2 separate regions of the Homo sapiens genome follow, and region 2 is linked to region 1. Evidence: fine-mapped expression QTL. Tissue or cell type: whole blood. Region 1 holds a variant in brackets; the other region holds the start of a gene. All regions are shown on one strand. Distances are from middle to middle.

Region 1 (10,624 bases):
AGAACATTTAAAATCCTCTCTTCTGGCTATTTTGCAAGGTACTTACCACTGTACCACCGACACCACCTCTTCTAGCTATTTGGAAATATGCAATATATTATTGTTAACTATAGTCACTACTGTGCAATGGAACACCATAATTTATTCCTCCTTATCTCTTAATTCTTAGCTCAAATGTCATTTTCTCAGAAAAGCCTTCCCTAACTACTCTCCCCATACATTCCTTTGTCACATAGCCATGTTTTATTTCCATCTTCCTGCTTAGAAGTATTGAAAAATACTTTGCTTGAACTTTTTAATTGCTGTCCTCTTTTACTCCTCAATTTGAATGTAAACTCCGTGAGGTTAGATCCTATCTGTATATTTATTACTGTCACCTCTGGCACCCAAAACAATGTTGGCACATAGCACGTTATCAGGTAATGTTCACTGAGTAAAAACAATAAATAAAAGCATCTATTGTTGGTGAAAATCGTGTAGTTTCCATCCTATAACTGAACATGTTTGATGATAAATTATTAAATCCCCTTGATTTTACCTCTCTGACACCACCCTTGCTGAATTGTTCCCTATCTTATATTTGGCTAAAAAACTTACAGAGTAAGGCAAAACTATGGAGACAGTAAAAAGATTATTATTTGCCAGGGCCTTTGAGTGGGTCAGGGAGGGATGAACTGGTGGAGCACAAAGGATTTTTAAGGCAGTGGAACTATTCTGTATGAAACTGTAATGGCAGATACATGTCATTATACACTAGTCAACAACCTATAGAATGTACAACACAAAGAGTCAACCCTAATGTCAACTATGGACTTTAGCTAATAAGAATGTATCAATAGTGGCTTGTCAATTGTAGTAAATATACCACACTAATGCAAAATGTAAACAGTAGGGAAAACTGGGAGGTGGGGGTAGAGTTAGAGGGTGAGGACTCTGTACTTTCCATTTACTTTTTATGCAAACTTGAAACTTCTCGTAAAAATACAGTCTAACCACCCCCCCAACCTACCACAGACTATTAATAAAAACTGATTTGGATGAATAAGGGAAAAAAGCAAATCCAAGATTTATTGCCTAGTGGTGTGGTTGGTGTGGGGAGAAGGTATTCCAAAATGAACAGCTTGGGTTCAATTTAGACTTAAGTTGCTTAAATTTTTGGATTTCTTGAAAATGGTAATGAACTGTGTAGATGCCATCCAAGAGGAAAAATTGTTACCACTAAAAAATGCAGAATATGTTTAGAATAAAAACAACCTGAAATCTTTCCTGAACAGATACAAATGTTTTCTTTTTTCAGTATGGAAAGAAAGAAATCAGGCAACTTGGTAGCCTACATTTGTTGAAAGCAAACTTGAGTGCATCAAATTATACTATTATCAAGGGAAAATAAAATAAAATATTCTAGAAAACACTGACCCTGAGTTCATCTGCACAGATTTTTTCCCCTAAATTTAGCTTTCCATATTTATTACCCACTATAAATAAATAAATAAATAAATCCCACTATTTATTAGTCATTAAATATTTGAAAATATTTCCTCCTGAGGGTTTTAAAATTCAGTCTTAAAAGTCATTTTTTTTCTCTCTCTCTTTTTGTTTTGGAAACGGAGTCTCACTCTGTCGCCCAGACTGGAGTACAGTGGCGCGATCTCAGCTCACTGCAAGCTCCGCCTCCTGGGTTCATGCCATTCTCCTGCCTCCGCCTCCCCAGTAGCTGGGACAACAAACACCCACCACCATGCCCAGCTAATTTTTTGTATTTTTAGTAGAGACAGGGTTTCACCATGTTAGCCAGGATGGTCTTGATCTCCTGACCTCGTGATCTGCCCGCCTTGGCCTCCCAAAGTGCTGGGATTACAGGTGTGAGCCACCGTGCCCAGCCTTAAAAGTCCTTTTAAATTAGTCTTGCAATTATAATTCCATTATAGCAACTGTGTTGGTATCAAGAAATCAAAAATCAAATGTATTTGTAGCAAAATGGGCCTATTGACGTGGCAGAATTTCAGAAGAAAGGGAAGGCACACTCTCCCCTGTCTTAGCACATCTTACTTAAAGTATACGTTTTCTGTCTGCTTCCTGGGACTTGAAATTTCAAAATTACAACCAGTTCCCTAGGGTTAAGACTTTTTATCTTTTTTAAAATGCAGCAACATCCCTGTGAGTAATAACACACTGGGTTATCAGTAATTCATTCTTACTTTCGAGTAAATTTAGCAGATCCTGTTCTACAAGCAGGTTTTAACCTGGGAGAAGCGAGAGATGGTAATGACAGAGGGTTCACCAAGTCTGGGTAAGGTGAAGGTGGGGTTGCTCAAAGAATTGCAATTTGCTTACGGGCAGCCCTGTTTACTGTTACCATTAATACTCTCAATAGGATGTTGCCATGTAAATGCCTATCTAGTATTTTGTGCAACTGAAGCAGAGATGACTTTGCTGATATAAAACGTGTCACGGCTGGAGGTGGGAAGTGTACAGCTTCTAAAACAGCACTAGAGGGAACTGGGAGCACTATCAATCAATAACTCTGGCAAGTAGAAAAGGCTCTAAAAGTCGAAGGTAGAATGGATGCCTCTTTCGCAGGCTAAATACACAAAGAGAAGAGCTGTTGGCATTGGATTGTTCACCACAGTGCCATTTCAGTGGCCCTCTGCTCATCAGGAAAGTTTTCCAGAAACTGTCCCTGGAGCTTAATTTGAAATCAGAAGACCATTTCTAAGTGACTCTTCCATTTATTTTACTGCGATTCTTCTTCTTTTTTGGCTCAGGTCTCTGAAAGAGCAAGCATCACTTCCCCACTCTGGATTTTTACTTTCTCTGGAAAAATATCCCACTGAAGTAGGTAGTATAGTCACAGAGTCATCGTCTTTTAAGGCTGATAATGTCATATAATTATATTTTGCAAATAAAAGTAATATGACTTTTTTTCATTTAGGATTCATCTTAAATTGGGTGTTGTTAAGAGTAAAAATTGGTTACAGAAAGAGTTACTTAGTGTTATAGCCAGAAAATGGAGATGTTTAATTTGATAAACATTTTCTGAACTCCTTTTAATGTGCAAGCCACTGCGTTAAATGTTGTGGAAGGTTCAGCAGATCTTGTGCTTCAGCAGCTTACCAGCAGGAGATGTAACCTGGTGAGGTACTACCCAGCCCTAGGAGTCTACTATTGGGGATGTGAATATGTTACTCATCATTTAACATGGAGTTGTAATAGCAGGGGATTACACTGGAAAACATTTTGTAATTTTAGTAGGGCACTATCAAAACTAGTTTGTTTGAATTGGTTTGACTTTTTTCATTCTGCAATCGTGTTTTTATGCATGTAGACTTAGCTCCAGCCCTAATGTTTTACTCTAGTCACATTTCTACGTTTTATTCTGTGTAACCAAAGATGAATAAGCAGAGACGGAATCAGCACAGATAGTCATGATAGAACGAATGACAGTTCTGTAACTCAAGAGAAATAGGAAAATGTGTAGGAACACATATATTTGCCACTTGTAAAATAACATTTTCTCATTTGATATGCCATTTTGTATATGTCTTTAGGCTTTTAATTATTCAACTAAACAAGAATATTTTGGATGCCTACTATGTGCAAGGCAGTGTGCAAGGTGCTAGAGAAAGAAATAGTATGAAGCAAAACTTCTGTCCTTGAGGAATGGGCAACCCTGATGGGAAAGGAGGACTTACACCTAAAAAGGGAAGTAGTCACACGCAGTGTTCAGAGAGTTGACCACATGGTATTTTATGTCCTTAGCTGGAGTCTTAGATCATTTAGTCCTATGATAGACTTTTCACAGTGACTTATAACACACTTCTTCTACCACCTCTGCCACCTGGTACTCAGCAGAATTTTATTTCCAAATACATTTGAAAGAAAAATATTATCTGACTTTATATACTTTCTTCTTTAGATGGCCGAGCTTTTCCTTTTCAGTGTTCTCACCTTTCTAATTTTTCATGCAGTCAAGAAGTATTTTCCTAATATATTTGATCATTTCCATTATTTTAAGTTGTTATGAAAAATATTTGGGTAATATCTTAAATATATCATTCTGAAGTGGAATAGCTACAGGAGGTTGCAACTGTAAGAAATAAGCCCAAAGCATTCTCCAAGGTGACTTCTGTGCTACCTTATTTAACATTAACATAAAAGTTAAAACTTTACTATGGTAAGAACAATTTTTTTTAAATTTGTTGTTAAAAAAAGGAAATCAAAACAATCTAGAGAACATAAGTCAAGGGTTATTTAATCTTTTACTAAGTCAGTTGGGGGTGATTTGGAGAGCAGTTGATAGTGCTAGAGTGAGCAGGAATCTAGCAAAAAAGAGCTAATTGCTGTCTAATCACGCTTGCAATGGAATGAATACACTAGTAAGTATTACAGTTAAGCCAGGCATAATGGTTGGCTTAAATACATTCTGTTATATCAGTGTTATAACCAGTATATATTCAGCCTCAGGATGGGAAAGAGTTGTAGTTATGTCTATAGTTCCCCGATTTAGTTTTGCTTATTGAAATCCATTTAAATTAAAATTGGATTCAGTCAAAGATAGTCTCATTCCATCACTGTCTCTTATTGTGAAGTTTGTGTGGAACTCTATTAGTTTGCATTTCAAGAAGTATCTTTGCTTGTATAGTAATAGAACCTAAAAAAAGAACTGTCTGCTGGCATGTGCCCAAACAGAGCTCGGTGTTTAAAAACAAGATGCTGTATTCTTGGGGTATGGAAACTTCCTTCACATGTGGGTACAGCAATGTCTTTGGACACATTTTCTGTGTAAGGGGAAAATTATCAGCATCTTGAGGAGTGGCAAAATTTCTACTTGGTACCAGGATCTCTAGGACCATGGATATCAGAGATACATATCCATAAGCAAGTATTTCAGGTTGGCTTTTTTTTGTGGAATTTTGTCCATGCATACTCAAAGCTGGCTTTGCATTCTTGAATCCTCAGGCTTTGTAACACTTTTGGTTAAAGGTAGTAAGGTAGTCAAATTGGCCTGAAAATTCTGGAGAAGGTTTACTAAGGCTACTC[G/A]TCTGGATATTTTATGAAGGAGTTAAATCGTAATGACAGCTGGATAAAAACAAATATTTCTAATGACTACTCAAGGTATAGCTGACAACTGTTTGGGGAACAAAACAACAAGAGAAAAAAAATGATCTGTTTATGCCAAAAGGGCCCCCTGAAGTAGATTTTGTCACCATTGTGAATGTGGAGACAAACGTCCTCTGACTTGCTGTGTGCAAGTTCACTTGTCCTGCGCCATTACAAATCAGGCTTGCAAATGTGATGCATTAGTCCCAGGACAGAGAGCTCTGTTGCATACACCAAAGGCAGTGGACTTCCAGTGAACTTGCAAATATTCTGACTTTACACTTGTTTCTGTATGACCGAGAGTTGACCACACTGACAGGCTTGATTGCTTAAAAACAACATGCCAATCTATTAGCAATGCTTTTATTTGTTTCATTTTAAATATTTAAGGAACTTGAGAATGAAAGGAAATAATCTTCATTCTAGTTAGCAAATATATATGTAAGAGCAATCTGATTTACAAATGTACCAAGTTTAATAAGAGTCATCTTGTTTTAAATGATCTGAAAAGATGAGCCACTGCAGAACCATAGAATCGAAACCTAGTTTTTTTGCTTAGAAGGAAAGTAAGAGCTAGAGGAATTATTCCAGTGTTCTGAAAAGGAGAGGACAAAAAAAGTCTAGAGTAGATTAGCTTTTTATTGACTCACATTTTCTCAAGCAATAGCTTCTCCAAAGTTCCTAACTCCTTCCTGAAAAAACAGAGGACTCAAGTAAATACATTTCTTCCTATGTTTCATATGAAAAAATGTTTATCATGATTGATGCATGTTGTGAATTAGACTTGGAGGGAAAAGCAGTCATGGCAAAATTTATTTTCATGATGCTTAATTTGATGAATGTTACTTTATTGTTTATTACCAACTTGCACTTGCAATAGGAATTCTACACTTTAATATGGTCTGCTCCTCAAGAATGCCTAGATTCTAGTCTAAATTGTTTCACTAGCTAGTTGTGTGGCTTTAAGCAAGCTAAGTTTTAGCTCAGGGTTTTCAACTATAAAATGTGGTTGTCCATGATAGACTGTCTTTAAGATAACTTCTAAGTAGAAAGATTGTGGTTCTAGGAATTTAGGTCTAATTCAGGATAAAATGGGAATCTATGCAAGATTTTTGAGTCCTAATATGACGAAAGTGCATCTTTTCAGTATTATTAAATAATTACATTGACTTTGCAATGATTCTGGGCAATTAGTTAAACTTCTTACTGGTAAGAGCTGGAAGGATAGTTTCTTCACAAAAGCTGGACAATTTAATCCATCTTTGAGTAACAGTATCACTGCCCCCTTCAGTAAAGTTTTCTTTTTAAAGACATAATTTTACTCTTAAAGGGTAACTTTACACACCCCTGCTCTGGATACATCTAATGCATAAAGTAATGTCAACCTTTATCTGGGCAAGTCCTCTATTCTTTTAGAGACAAAGCCCTGACAAGGAAATAAGATCCATTAGGAGATATTCATGTGACAGAACCAGAGAAAAGCTCTTTGTATTACTACAACAGGCAAAGGCAACTAGCAGCTCAGGCTGAGACATCAGATATGTAAATCAGGCCACTGCCAGATTCTATCGACTGAATCAACCCAGCCGTCATGGCTGAGTCGTGCTGACTTCCCGGCTCAGGGATTATCTGAGGACATCTTCTCACCTTCTCTGCTTGGCTTTTGCGCTTTGTATTTTATTTCCATCAGTATCATTTAGAGATCTTGGAAGGAGGTGAAACTCAAATCGACCATTTTTTCTCCCTGACAACTTAGATAAATTACTTAGTTGAGAGGAAAATTTGAAATTTTTGACTTAAATTGTGGTTTGGATTATTGGTACATTTTAGCTATTCATCTCATTTGTTTTTTCTATAGCTACTAATAATTGAAAGCTGACTGCAGAAAATAGAATAAATTTATAATTCTCAATACAATAGAAGCTGTTGACAGAGAGAAAAATCAAATCCCCTTATGAAACAATTTCATATGAGCAATGATTTTATGTTCTGAGAATATTAATGATAAGATATGTGAGGACACAATTTGAGACTTTTATTACTAAAAGATTTCTGGTTATTTCTGAGGAATCTCAAACAGAAGCTTGTTTTGAGGTAAAATTATACTCGATTATCTCTTTATGACGTTTATTAGACAATGGGAAAAACAGAAACAACTTATACCATGGGGTTAACAAATATTTACTTGGGGGCTTTTGAGAAGAACTTGAACTATAAGGTTTTGGAGTATGTTTTGATCCTAAATTTATTTTACCTCAAATAAGCATGTAATAAAGTTTTAACATTTGTTTTACTTTCTGATGTTTGAGTATTATATTTCTACAGGGGTAATCCTATTAAAAGCTTTATGCTTATTTTTCAGTACTTAATTTGAAAGAGAATTAAGAGCATACAAAATTACAGAAAAATGAGGAAGCCTAGGAAAAATAAGAGTGGAGAAATCTAGAGACAAAAAGAGAGATGGGAGTTCAAAAAGATAATTACAAGTTTGAGAAGTGGTCAGTAATAAATAAAATGTTTTATTGCACACACATATGTGGGTAGCAGACAGAGAGAAGAAATAAGTATCACAAAAGCAAAACGGGGAAAAAAGTGATTATGTAAATGGATGGATGCATCTGGGAATACAAAGCTGAATAAGATTGAGTCCCTGCTCTACTGGAATTACAATTTACTGGAGAAGTAACAAGATGGAAATAATATAGGTAAAGAATAAATCATAAGATAGAAAATAAAAAAATTCCATGAACAGATTTAAAAAAATAGAATGTTTTGGGAATATGGGGAGTGAGAAGGAGACAGAAGGGGAAATCAGGAAACTAATAGAGGAGAGGGCACTGAAGTGAGCTTTGAGGCCTGGCAGGATTTTGATCAGGGCAGATGGCTTAAGAAAGTTTCCCTAATAGAAAGAAATGTGTGGGAGGAGGAACAAGTAGGGTGTGTTTAGAGAAGCGTGATTCATCCATGTCAACTGAGACTTAGGGGAACTGGAACACCATAGTTCTAGGTTAGAAAAATTTTACTTCATTCAGTAAGCAAGGGAGAAAATGACAAAGCCAGGAATTAGTACTGTAGTTTTGGATGATGATTCTGGAAGTGGTACTTAGGAAGGAGTGAGATCAGAAGGACCAGAACCTACTGGTAGCTGAGTGGGACTTCAAGCCCACCTTTGAGTGCTGCTTGAGAGAATTCGGAGAAGATAGGAGATACTTCATTTTTTTGGTGGGAGTGGGGTGGGGGAGAGACAGGGAGGATAAAATGGAGCAGATAATATTTTTAAAGGTGACTTTGCTGCCTCTGGAAGGATAAAAAACCCTATTCTGGTTCTCATTGCTATTATGTTCCAATACCACTTGCCTTGATATTGCAGTAATCTTTGATGTTAAGGGAGTGGAATTAGGTATTTATGAATATGACCTGGGACATAAGGAATGTATATACATTTATTTGACAGCTACTTATTTGGTGCCCACTGTGTGCCAAGCATGTTACACAAGAGAGTAATCATAAGGAAGGTGACACTAGCCTCAGTGTTAGGATGGATGGGGGTTGGAACAGAGCTTATCCTTCTCCCTCCCATCTGTTGTGGTGAGACTATGGCTTACTTTTACTGGAGGTATCATGTGGGTCTCTCTGTATGTCGTCTTCCCAATGAGCCAGTTCAAGGATTCTGACAACCACCTTTTTGATGTTTATTTTGTAACAGATGATTCAAGAGAGCCGGTTTCTCATAGAAATGGCGGACACAGTCCAGGAAAAGATTGTACAGTGTCAGAAAGCAGGTAATTGTTTTTAATTTTTTTTTCTGTTTTTTTTTTCTATTTTGTTTGGAAACTATAATAATTCTTGGTAGATTTTTTTTTCAGAAACTTTCTGCTTCTCTTAAAATGCAGTTATTTTATAGCAATGCTTAACTATACTTTAAGTTACACTTTAGTCTTTGTTTAGTACAGATGAAATCCAAGTGATAATAGGTGGGTTGTATGTGAGCGTACAGGGTTGGGGTGGTGTCTGAAGAAGTCTAGAGGGATGAGGGTTTCTGAATCTAGTTTTGTGGTTTGGAACCCCATCAAAACCTTCTACTGCTGGTATTGAAGCTATGGTTCCATACAGTCCCTTAAAACCCACTTCAATTTTACAATTGGAACCAAAATCCTATTAATCTTCCAGGCTTTTGCCCCATTACTAGTCTTCACTTTAGATTTAGATTTGTTCTTTCTTTTTAAGTATGGGATGAGTCACATATCTGTGAGAGTGTACTTGTTTATTTCTGTTCACCTTCATCCACACCCTTGTGCTTTCATCTCCTGGATCCACAACCTTCTCTATCCACATACCCGATAATGATTATGACGAGGAAGATGACAATAGTAGCAACTGCTTGATACATTGCATATGCTATACCAAGCACACACACTATCTTACTCATGACAACTCTGCAAAGTAATCATCATTATATCCGATTTATAGATGAGGCATCTGAGATTCTGAGAGACTGAGTGACTTACCCTAGGTGCCATATCAACACGCGGTGGAGCTGCCCTTTGAATCCAGACCAAACTTTTAAAATGGTGCTTTTCACTGGCTGACCAGCAGGCTTAGATATTTCTGTTGACAGGAAGCACAAAAATAATAATACCTGATACTTACATGATGCCAGGCACTGCTCTGAGATCTTTATATGTACTGATTGACTTAAGCTTTACCTCTGTCCCATGAGGTAAACCCACTTGTTAACCACATGTCACCCGTGAGGAAACTGAAGACCAGAGATGTCAGGGTCTTTCCGAGACTCACATAGCTAGTAAGTGGTAGAGCTGGGCTCCACACTCATGTTCTTTACTATGTGCTATGTTTGTGATGTTAGCACCAGGAAAGTTAACGTGGTCTTAGGCTGCATTAATAAAAATATAAAAACTAGAACAAGGAGAATGGTGGTAGATCCCTGACCTCATGTAGGCTTCTCCAAGCCCATTTTGAGTACAGCGTTCACTCCTGGAGGCAAGTTCCCACAGAGCTCAGCTCCAGGAAACTGGGCAATGCAGTGGCCTTGCCTGGATGCCATCTTTAAAGAAGAGTTTCATTGGCAAGCTGAATATGTTTGAATGGTTAACTGAGAGAAGACTTGAAGGGATTTTACCCAATATCTTTCTTCAAATATCTAAAAGCTTGCACTGTAGAAAAGAGTTTAGACCTTTTTGGTCTGTGTCCAGCTAGCACCAAGGAGTAGAAGTTCCAAGGAAGGAGATTTTTGGCTTGATGTCAGTCATAGCTTTCTGAAGATGGAATGAGCTGTTCATAAGAGAATATGATTTCCATCTTTAAGGTGCTAAGACAAAGGCTGAAGAAATGTGATGGTGATGGTTTTCATAATCTTCAAGCTCGAGCAGATGGTTGAGCTAAAAATACTTTAAGGTCATTCCCAAATCTGAAATACTTGGGTGTTTCCCAAAATGCTATTTTTAAAAAAGCCTTTTTATTTTTAGCCAACATTACTGATTACTCATTGTTATCTATGTGGGTT
Region 2 (10,624 bases), 290 kb before region 1:
GAATGGCAAAAGTCCCAAGTGTGGTTCAACAGCTGTTGCTCCCGTACTGTGGGCTGAGTAGAGGCAGTTGTATCCATGGTGACCTATATGACTTAATGAGAGTGGGAACTGCGTGATTCTCACAGGGGTTAATGACAGAGCAAACGCTGGCAAGCCAGCTTTCATGAGGCATTTGGCTTTTTTTTGTTTGTTTGTTTGTTTGTTTTTTTTTTTAAAAGGAAGGATTCACTTTTTCTAACTCCTCATTTTGTAAAGCAGACAAACTTCGTATCATGCTTAACAAAAGAGCTATATACCTGAAAACTAACTCGGAAAAAAAGGGCTTACAAAACAAACTATACTTTACTTTTGTCCTATATTTTAATGTAAAACATGCATTATGATTTTATATTTATTCAAATATTGCACTCTGCTTCTTCCTCCCGAAAGGTTTAAGGTAGACTAGAACAAAGGCATATCAATAAAGTCTATAAAATAGGTGTAAGAGTCTTACACATTATGAGTGGAGAAAAGAAGTGCATTAGAAAAGGAAATATGACTCTGCAGTTTCTTCCAATGGGCCCTGTGACACTAAAAAGCATTAATAAACTTCATACCTTGGTATAAGTTGGAGGATTAAAAACCCCAACATCGTGTAGGTGATTTAGATTTGAGGAATGTACCTGGGATTTGGGGGCTCGAGGGGAGGAGGAACCTACTGTATATTCACTTCTGCATTGAAAATGTCAGGCATTGGGTGTATATCTGGTTTGAAAAGATTTCTGTCATAACGTTGTACCTGGAAAAGATTCGGTTGTCAAATAAAACAGAGAATCAAGTTTTTATGGGGGCCTTATTTGTGCCATTTCAGTGGTACTTTTCCTAAGTGCCTCTGGCTTCTGCATCAGTGGGGGAAAAAACCGTGACATGAGCTCCAACTCCAGGATCCACGTCAAAGTAAGTTAATACATAGAAAATAAATCAACACTGTCTATTTTTAAAAGACCTTTGCCATGCACAATACAGACTACTGCCAGATGATTGGCCTGGAGCTCCTGATAGTGCCTTAGCCCCAGGGTCTTCATGGGGTAATTCCTGTGGGAATGGTGTTAATGGATAGAGGCCCAGGCATTCTGCTCTCCTGCAGACAGTAGAGATTTCTCAACCTCTGAAAGAAGCAGCAGTAATCAGACATTGAAGAACATTGGCTGTAATTAAAGATTTCTTAGATTCATTGCCTCTCAGTACTTTAAAGATTTATTAAACTGGGGAATCTAGACCTATTATAAGCAATTTGTAACTTCTCATTTTTGTAGGACTGTTATAATGGAGCACACTTTACTTGTTCTTTGAAATAAGATTAGTTGATTTTTATGTTTTAGTTACTGAAATTTCTTAATTCCTAATATAAGTGACAAAAACTTTCAAGAAAAAACTTGAATTTCAAAGAGGTCATATATCAAGTTTTGCTTATCTTTTATTGACTTGTATGTATTTACTCTACTATAATATTCACTCTACAAATTACCCTACAAATTCTGTTTTCTTGAGCTAGCAAAACAAAATGATCACCATGTATATTGGGGAGGGCTATGACTGAATGTAAAGATGCATGCAACTTAACTGAAAATGCTGTATGTCCTCTTCTTTGATTACGTGCAATGCGTCCTTTAACTTATTAGGAGACCTGTCTCAATATAAAAATATTTTTCTTACACATATGTGAATGAGATGATAAATGTGTTTCCTCATGCACTAATGAATCAGTCATACTGGTGGTCCATGCTGATGACATAAAGGTCATGTTGATGTTGAGAGAGGAGGTTGTCATGGTTAATATGAGTGGTCCCAGATCTGAAGGAGTGGCTCTTCATTCTCCAGGACAGCTACTGGACTTGTATCTTATGAGAGCTTTGGGTAGCAGGAAGAATGCAGGCTTTGAAGTCACTAACATTGCCTCAAATGCTGGTTCTTTCACTTCCTAGTTGGCTCTAACTTCAAGCAAGCTACTTGACCCTTTTGATCCCCAGTTTTCTTATCTGTGAAGTGGAGATCAGAATACTGCAGAGAGGATTATCTGGTACATAGAAAGCAGTTATCAAAGAGATAGTTCTTTTCCCCCCACTATGACTTCCTGGTAGTATATGGAAAGTCTTAATATTCTCACTGGTTTTTTCTCAGGCCCAGGGTTCTGGACTTCCCTGGCTGGAAGGACTATATTGACATATCTAGTCTTTTAGTCTGGTCTAGGTATTTTCAGGACTGCTAGAACTTGCTTAGTTCTTATTGGTTGTATTTCAGTCTAATTCTAGATTTCAAGTCATTCCAATTAATAAGTGCCCTTCTTCTGAGATTTGTAGCTGCTTGGTGTGGATCTGTTCTGATTTCTGCTCTAAAATGGAATTCTAGGATCCTTGAGGATGAGAAGTTCTACCATGCAGACAGTGACAGAACCATTTTTCTTTATCAGATTGATTATTTTATTTAGTCACAGGACTGCAAAAGTCCTCTGTCCATAAATATTTATTGAGCACTTACTCTGTTCCAGACATAGTTCTGGGAGCTGGAGATACAGCAATGAATAAAATCGCAAGGTCTTTAGGCACATGGAGATGGCATTCTACATTTCAGTGAAGCAGAGATAGGGGGAAAGTAAAACAGAATATGTAAGTAAACAATTCCACGGAAAAGACAGTTTGTTCACAGTGATAAAATCCTGTGAGAAGACAAAACACAATATGACTGACATGTACTGAGGCTTGTAGGGGCAACTTGAGATTTGTAGTTAGAGAGTCCTTTCTGACGTAGTAACATTTGAATTTCCTGCTCGTTACTATTATTCATATCTTACCTTCCTACCCCTGCTCACCCCCAAATTCCAATCTGCCAATCTAGCAATTGTCACCATGACTTGGTAAAAGGTTGGGAGGCAAGAATTGTAGGTGACAGCTATTTGGAAAGAGGGACTGTTAATGCAGGGGTAGGAATGTGCCCATGGCTGCTGACTTAACTGAAACTAGCTAGTCTCTTTCAGTTTTTGAAGTGGGTCCACAAAGCAGAATCTGCTCCTGGCTAGGAGCAAGTACATAGGAGGGGTTTTTTTTTTTTCAATTGCAAACATGAGTATCAGGAAAAGCCTTCTGAGCTTATGCTGGAACACAACAATATAAACGACTTGCTAGATTAGGGTCCAACTAGTTTATCAAAGCAGAGTAATTTAGACAACAATCTTTACGGATAGAGGCTCAGAGCAAAGGAATCAGAGGGGTGTGTGTGTGTGTGTGTGTGCACTTTCACATGAGGGTGAGAGGGAAGGATGCCAAGGAAGAGAAAAGAGTCCAACTAGACATTGTCTAGTTGAAAGATACAACATTTTGCAAGTTATATGCTGTACTTTCTGGCCTCTGTTTTTTTTTAAATCACTGACCTTGAATGTTTGTTAATAAAGTGATGCTAATTTTAAAATTTGTAAAAATAAATTATTATCATAATGGTACACAAATCTGTAGGATGAGGAACTTATAAATGACATTAATATCCTATAACAAGATAATGAGTGAGATAAAGGCAGTTTTACATTTTTCAGAGGACAACCGAAGAATGGGACTTTTATTAGAGTAACAAAGAAAAATGAAGCACTGACAACTGTAAATGACAGAAGTCAAATGTAATAATAGTTGAATATCAAAGAAAAAAATGATAGCCTAAAATAAGATATATTTCTGAGGATAGCAATTAAAAATATTTCCTATATAGCATAGACAGGAATTCCCTGAACTAAAGGAGATGGAAGACATGTATGGTTGTTTTAAGTCTGGGTACACTTTATTTTCTTCCTCTAGTCTGTGCGTTGTAAAGGCATACCTGTTGAAAAGGAAACTTTTGTTGGGTTACCCCTCCTGTCTTTTAAAGATGAGGGGGAAAAAGAAGCCTTTGCTGTTATGGATGCAGTTCTCAGAATCTCACTAGAGGGTGGTGTTGGTTCTAAAACCAGAGGTCACTGCTACTCTCTACAGTACATTCATTACTAGGCTGCATTTATGTTTAAAGAAAAGGCAAAGTCAAGCCTTCTCAGTATTCCCTAGTAGTTGATAAATGTCAAATCTGAAACCTCCCAAGTGCCCCTGCCAGTTCTGGCTGGTTGTAGCCCAGAGGAGACAGATAAAGTAGTGAAGAGATTATCGGAGGAGTTGGGTGGCTGATTCTAATTTTGGCTCCTGCACTAACTAGTAGACAAGACTCCCTGGGCCTTTGTCTCAACCGTAAAACAAAAATGATGTCCTAGTTGATCCCTAAATCCCCATATATCTCTAAAATTATGAGATTCAAACCAAATTGTTGGTCTAAAATGCTGAATAATTTCTCATGCTGTTAGCCAGACTAAGGAACAAGTAAAATCTCAAATTATTAAATTATTAATAAGATAAAATGTAATGTTATAAGTGAGGTTTAATATAGATTCTAATATCAAAGGAGTTTAAAATTAAAATGCCAAGTCTTTTGTCTTACCAGGGAGCCTTAGGACCATGGTTTGCATCTGAGCATTCTGTGGATAATTTCAGTGACTTAACTCATCATCCAAAGATCTCTCCCTTCTTGGTTGCTAGCTTACTGGAAATGAGCAAAATATGTTTTTATATAGGATTATATAGAGAAAGGAGGCTGAACCATTGTCAAATAGGAATGTTTTAGGATAGAGACTAAACTCCCCACCTGCATTTATCTGACTTGGATTATATCTGTGCTTTTTAAGAGTCAGTCTTCGGAGGGATTTAGTTGGTTCAGTTTCCTTTCACCCTCATCTCTTTCACTGACTCCCTTTCCTTGTTATATTTACTCACACTGCAGAATGACCTTAGAATCCTTTCCTGGAACCTGAAGCAAATTATGGAACCCCAAGATCCCAGTAAACCCTAGTTTATCTCTGCATGGACTTGACTTCTAAGAATTGGCCTGAGAGCCTGCAATTAACCTGTGACCACGCAAAGCTTCACCCCGTCACCCCAAACGCTTAGACATTCATACTCAATACCCACTTTCCTCCAAATTGCTTTGTTTGGCAGAAGAAGGTTTCTTTCTCCCCTCTCCTTCACCCAACCTGGATTTTTGTTGCATCTCAGGCTCATTTCGCAAATCTAAACTTCCTAAAATATACACGGAGCGCCTCCGGGTTTGCACACGCGCGCGCGCGGGTACACCCTGGCTCGAGTACATTAGCCCCGCTGGGCCGGCTCCCAGTTGCAGAACACATTCCATTCTTCGCGCTCGGGCACACCCCTCCGCAGTGAGGATTGGTCGGGCCGAGCCCCCTCGGCGAGGCGAGGCTCCTAAGAGGCCCAGACGCCTGCCAATCCCCAAGGGCTGTCAAAACAAGTCTCCCTCCCTGTCACAACAGAGCTGAGTGGAGGCCGCCGCCGCCGCCGCACTTCCTGGGACCGCTGCGCCGCAGTCCGCGGGCAGGTGGCGGGTGCGCCCGGCCGCAGTCGCCCGGCTCTGGCCCCTATCGGGCCGCCGGCGTCCGGGCTCCAGAGGCCGCCTGGCTGGGCGCCCGGTGCCTTTTGTCTGGCGCAGGGCCGGCGTTTGCATCACATTTCGGATACCTCCCTCTCTTTTTCGCCTCTCCTTCTGCCTCCCGCTCACATCGCCTCCCCACTCCCGCCACCGTCCCCCGCCGGACTGCTAGCCTCCTAGACCGAAGCCCGAGGACGTCTCTGCCCGAGCGATGTCCCCTCTCCAGAAAGTTGCCGCCGCCGCCGCCGCCGCCGCCACTGCCGCCGCTGGGCGGTGAAACAAAGTCTGGCGGGGCCGCCTCCCGGTGCAGGAGCGCACCGGTGCCTAGCGGCTGGACTCCGCTGCCGGGCGTCCCGCTTTCCCCCGGGGAGCCCTAAACGCTCCAGGCCATGGCCGAGGGCGCGGCCGGCAGGGAGGATCCGGCGCCGCCCGACGCGGCGGGGGGCGAAGACGACCCCCGAGTGGGCCCGGATGCCGCCGGGGACTGCGTGACGGCGGCCTCTGGGGGCCGGATGAGGGACCGTCGCAGCGGGGTCGCACTGCCAGGCGCCGCGGGGACCCCAGCGGACAGCGAGGCGGGCCTCCTGGAGGCAGCACGGGCGACCCCCCGGCGCAGCAGCATCATCAAGGTAAGCAAAGCCGCGCCGCACCGGGAGCGTGGCTGTGGGTGATGGGTGGGTCAGGGACCCGGGCAGGATGTGCGGTGTCCGGAGGCATCCGGGCTCAGCATTGTTTTCTCCCACCTCCTTCAACGCCAAACCTTCCTTCCTTATCCGGAGGTTCCCAGACTCAGCTGTCAGCCACGAGACGCACAAGTGACTTTTTCTCCCCACTGACGGCAGAGGAAAAGTTCCGCTCTGCGTCTTTGCGTTCTGATGGATGCTTTCCCTCATTTTCTCTGCAAGCTTCACTAAACCGTTGATGGAGGGAGGAAGGGAGAACTCTGGATAAATGCAGACCCACCGGATGGTTGTGCATTGCTTTCCAATGAAGGGTTAGCTTTTCCCATACAATGAAGAAAATGCACAGCTTACTCTCAAGTGTAAAAAAAGAATCCCTCTAGACTTAAATGATCCCGAAATCCCAAGATGTGTGAACTTTCCCGGTAGGGAGGCAGAGTTTTAAGTGGACCCTGCATCACAGTAAAGAGCAATGCAAGAGCCCAGAGTTTTTGCGCTGCAGAAAGCACAACCGGAAAGCAATCAATCCCCCAAGCATTATCACTGGTCCTTGTGGTTACCACCACATCCAGGGAAAACGCTTCCTGACCCGCTAATCACCTCACAGAATTTCTCTCCATCCATTTGGCAAGGAATTTGTAAACCTCTTTCCTCCCCTTTCTCTTTCCATCTTCCTTCCACTTGGGGCTTGTTTCTTCTGTTCGAGATTTCCTCTTTTGGGAGCATGACTTTGGGGTAAGGTTATTTAGGAAAGAACCCTCGCACAGGCTCTGGAAAAGGGCCTCAGTGTAAATGCATGTGAGTAATCAATCAAATGTATGTCAGATTAAAATTGATTTTGGTGGAGCAGTCAGTATAAAACGATATGTATGTATGTATATATGTAAGTATATATGTGTGTGTGTACATACACACACACACATCCCTCAATGACAATGAAAGATGGACTTTTACTTACTATTGAATTTATTGGGTTCACTAATATATTCAAAAGCTCTGTTCAGGGTTAAGCTGCGTAACCAGTGCATCACGCATGTTGCAAGCTCCCAGCACCAGCTTAGGTAGACTAACCACAGAATGTGGCTCCAGTAAAGTCTTTTTCCCAACACTGACACATGGAAGTTTAAAATCAGTGGAGAGGTTTCTATAATATATAAAGAAGAGTGGGTGGTAATTACAAATGGCTTGTAGTAGTTTCTGTTATTTTGTGGCTTTTTGATTATGTAACAGGAGTGTTCTATTCTGGGTGTGAATTTGGACAAAGGGAAATTACTATTTTGTTTTTAACCCACAGGTCAGAAAGCACACTGTTTTCAAACTTAAAAAACATCACAATTAGGAAACACATACATTTTGGATTCTACTGTATTGATACTACATGGTGTCCTGTGTGTGTAAAACAGGCACTGCAAGAGACTTTAAAATATATGACAATAAAGAGCAAACGGCTCTATAATGTTGTAAAAAACAAAAGTAATGGAGTATAAGGAATATACAAATTCTTGCAACTGAGTTTGCCACTTGTGAATTGTACTATGCTGGTTTATATTCTCAGAAGGGTCATTGCTGAGTAATGGTGCCTCTTTTGTTTTGAAGTTTCTTTTTGTGACAAAAAAGGAGGGAGACAACAGAATATTAACTTGATTTTTCCCCTATTTAATAGTAAATGCAATTAACATTTGGTAAATGGCCTTTAAAATTAAAGATATTAGAAAATAAAGTGAATTATTATGTTAGGTTTTTATTGGAAAAGTAGCACATACATATAATTTAAAAAATCAAATGTTGCAAAGGAGTGTGAAGGAAAGACCCTCAGACACTCCACATTCCCACTTATGTAGTCCACCCTCATAGATGTTAACACTTTCTTATGTATGCTTCCAAAATATTCCATGCATGTGTAAGCAGATATATCTATATGTGTCTATGATGAACTATAGCAGCTCCTGATTTCTACAAAAAAATCTGGCTAGAGTTTTACAAGTCTCATAGTTTTAAGCATTTTTGAAGCCTAGAGGGGGTAATCTGGTAGGTCTTTGGTGGGCAGCAGTCATTGGGGTCTGTTCCCAGAGGCCTTAACGCCCTTCTAAGGAGAAAAAAAGGCAGGTGGTAAGCTCTGTTCCACTCCGTCTCTGAGATCAAGAACCTTTCTGGTGACATTCTTGAATCTGCTGCCCTGTGGTTTGTTCCCTTTAGCATAGTAAAAATGAGTTTCCAAAAAAAGTTTAGATCATATAAGAAATACATAGCACATGTTCTATATTGAGAGAAAATGCATTTTTCACAGTTTTGCCAAGAGATTTTTTTTTAAATTTGGCATTGAAATGTACACAAAGAAGAAAAGCTTTAGTACATTTTAATCAAAATATTAAATGCTGTTCCAAATAGCTGTAGTGCAGTAATAATTGATATTCATAATGCTGAGCCACTGAAAGGTTGTGAATCATCAAATATTAAATTCTTGTCAGCTCAATTTAAGGTATTGTTTCAGAATAGTGCTATCCTGACAGAAAACAGACTGTCTTGTATATTAATAAAAAGAATGTTTTTAGTAAATTTGCCCTCCATAATTTGTGAAAACATGTGTTTAGTTGAAAAAACAATTTTCTTCTGAGCTGAGGAAAACAATGACAACATTTATCTGTATGCATCTTCAGAAATTCTTTCTACTGACATTGTGTTTCTTCCCCACATATAACCAATCCTAGGTTTAAAAACGTTCAATGTGAGAATTAAACTAAGTTTTTTTAAAATCTGTCTACTTTTTCCTATATTTTTCTGTGTGATTGTTTCAACAGCATTGACATTGATAAATGCTGCATGTTTTTTGGTAAGCGCATTGTTATATACCACAATAATGCAATAGAATCCATTTTAATTTCTTCTTGATGACTTGTGGTTTGAAATGACAAGTTGGATACCTGCAGTATTGATAATCTCTAAAAGTTGTTTACTATTCTGCATTTGAATATATTTCTAATTAAGAAATAAGACCATTTATTTATCTGGTATTTGATATCAAACTTATAGCATTTAAAATATTTAACATTTTAGATTATTGCTTATAGCCCTATAATCTGCTGCCCTGTGGTTTGTTCCCTTTAGCATAGTAAAAATGAGTTTCCAAAAAAAGTCTAGATCATATAAGAAATACATAGCAAATGTTTTATATTGAGAGAAAATGCATTTTTCACAGTTTTGCCAAGAGTTTTTTTAAATTTGGCATTGAAATGTACACAAAGAAGAAAAGCTTTAGTACATTTTATATTAATCAAAACATTAAATGCTGTTCCAAATAGCTGTAGTGCAGTAATAATTGTAATGTTTTGGAAATAGGAAGCAGCATAGCTTATTTACTATATTAGTTGGTGGAAACTGAGCTACATGTGTATTTTAAAAATAGCAGTTGATTTTTCTTCCATTGTATGTGACACATTGACGGGTTCTACTTTTTTTCAACTTCCTTTTGTTCTACTTAAGAACAAATTCTCTAGGCAAGGAAGAATAGAAATTGTCACTTGGATCTCATGGACATGGGTGTGGGGGATGAAGATGGGAGTTGGGAATGAGGTGTTGAGACCAGCACTGGAGCAGCTACTTGGGTGTTGTTCATGTCTCATTATTTTATATCATGGCGAGTCTCACTCTCTCATGTCATCTTGGGCTGGTATGGTGGATTTTTGAACTGAAGCCTTAAAGGTGCCCCTTGGGTACCAGTAGACCCCTATCAAGATTATGGCTTTCCTCAGAGAGGCAAGAGGAATGCAGTTCACATTAAGTGCCTACTACTGTGAGTCATATACTAAACTAGGAGCTTTCGTACGTTTGTATCACTTAAACCTCACAGGAAACTCTCTAAAGTATGGAAGGAAGGCACAGAGAGCTACTGTTAAAATGTGGAGTGATGACTGAAAGTCATGTCTGCTTAATTTCAGAGTTTGTGCTCTTGGGCTGGTTCTCAGATGCAAGAAGTCCCACAATCCATCAACACTTCTAGGTTTGAAACAGCCCGAACACGTGAGATAGTGACAGAAGAGTACGCATCTTAGGTCCTATGGTTTGTGGGGTACATTATCTTTTCTCAGCCTTCTTTCCTTCAGTTCAGAACATTTGGAGGTTGATTATTCTAGAAAGGGATTGCAACCTCTTCTGTCTTTGGCTATTTTGTTAGGCCTGTGCTGTACTTGAAAAGACAGAGCAATCTGGCAGGTGTTCTGCTTGGCGTCAATATATGGAGCTTACATCCTATTGTTTTACCCCAGGCCCACTTTCCCCATACCCCTGCAGACAGTGGAGTTTGTGAAGCATTGTATTCTCTTTTAGGCTGATACGCAGGCAGAAAAAATACCTGGGTCATAGGAATATATATAAATCTAGGGGAGTAAGGAAATGGGGGAATCTTCTTTTGGAGCTCTGAAAGTGTGTGTGTGTGTGTGTGTGTGTGTGTGTGTTTA

Evidence for each region. PIP is the estimated chance that this variant, and not a neighbour inherited with it, causes the effect.
Region 2: PLCL1 starts here. The variant in region 1 is fine-mapped to the expression of PLCL1 in whole blood (INTERVAL, PIP above 0.99).

Annotation. Positions count from the first base shown.
Region 1 is chr2:198,092,479-198,103,102 of GRCh38, forward strand. PLCL1 (phospholipase C like 1 (inactive)) reads left to right here. Exons shown (of 6, transcript NM_006226.4): 4 at 8,807-8,882. Among named protein-coding and RNA genes, the nearest start is that of LINC01923, 280 kb to the right of the region's middle. The variant G/A (reference allele first, on the strand shown) is at 5,041.
Region 2 is chr2:197,799,221-197,809,844 of GRCh38, forward strand. It overlaps PLCL1 (phospholipase C like 1 (inactive)), which reads left to right and starts at 5,373. Exons shown (of 6, transcript NM_006226.4): 1 at 5,373-6,119. The coding sequence starts at 5,880. LOC105373828 (a long non-coding RNA gene) reads right to left here and starts at 5,326. Exons shown (of 4, transcript XR_001739850.3): 1 at 4,489-5,326; 2 at 2,518-2,599; 3 at 1,604-1,666; 4 at 1-1,147. RefSeq lists a silencer at 5,420-5,549.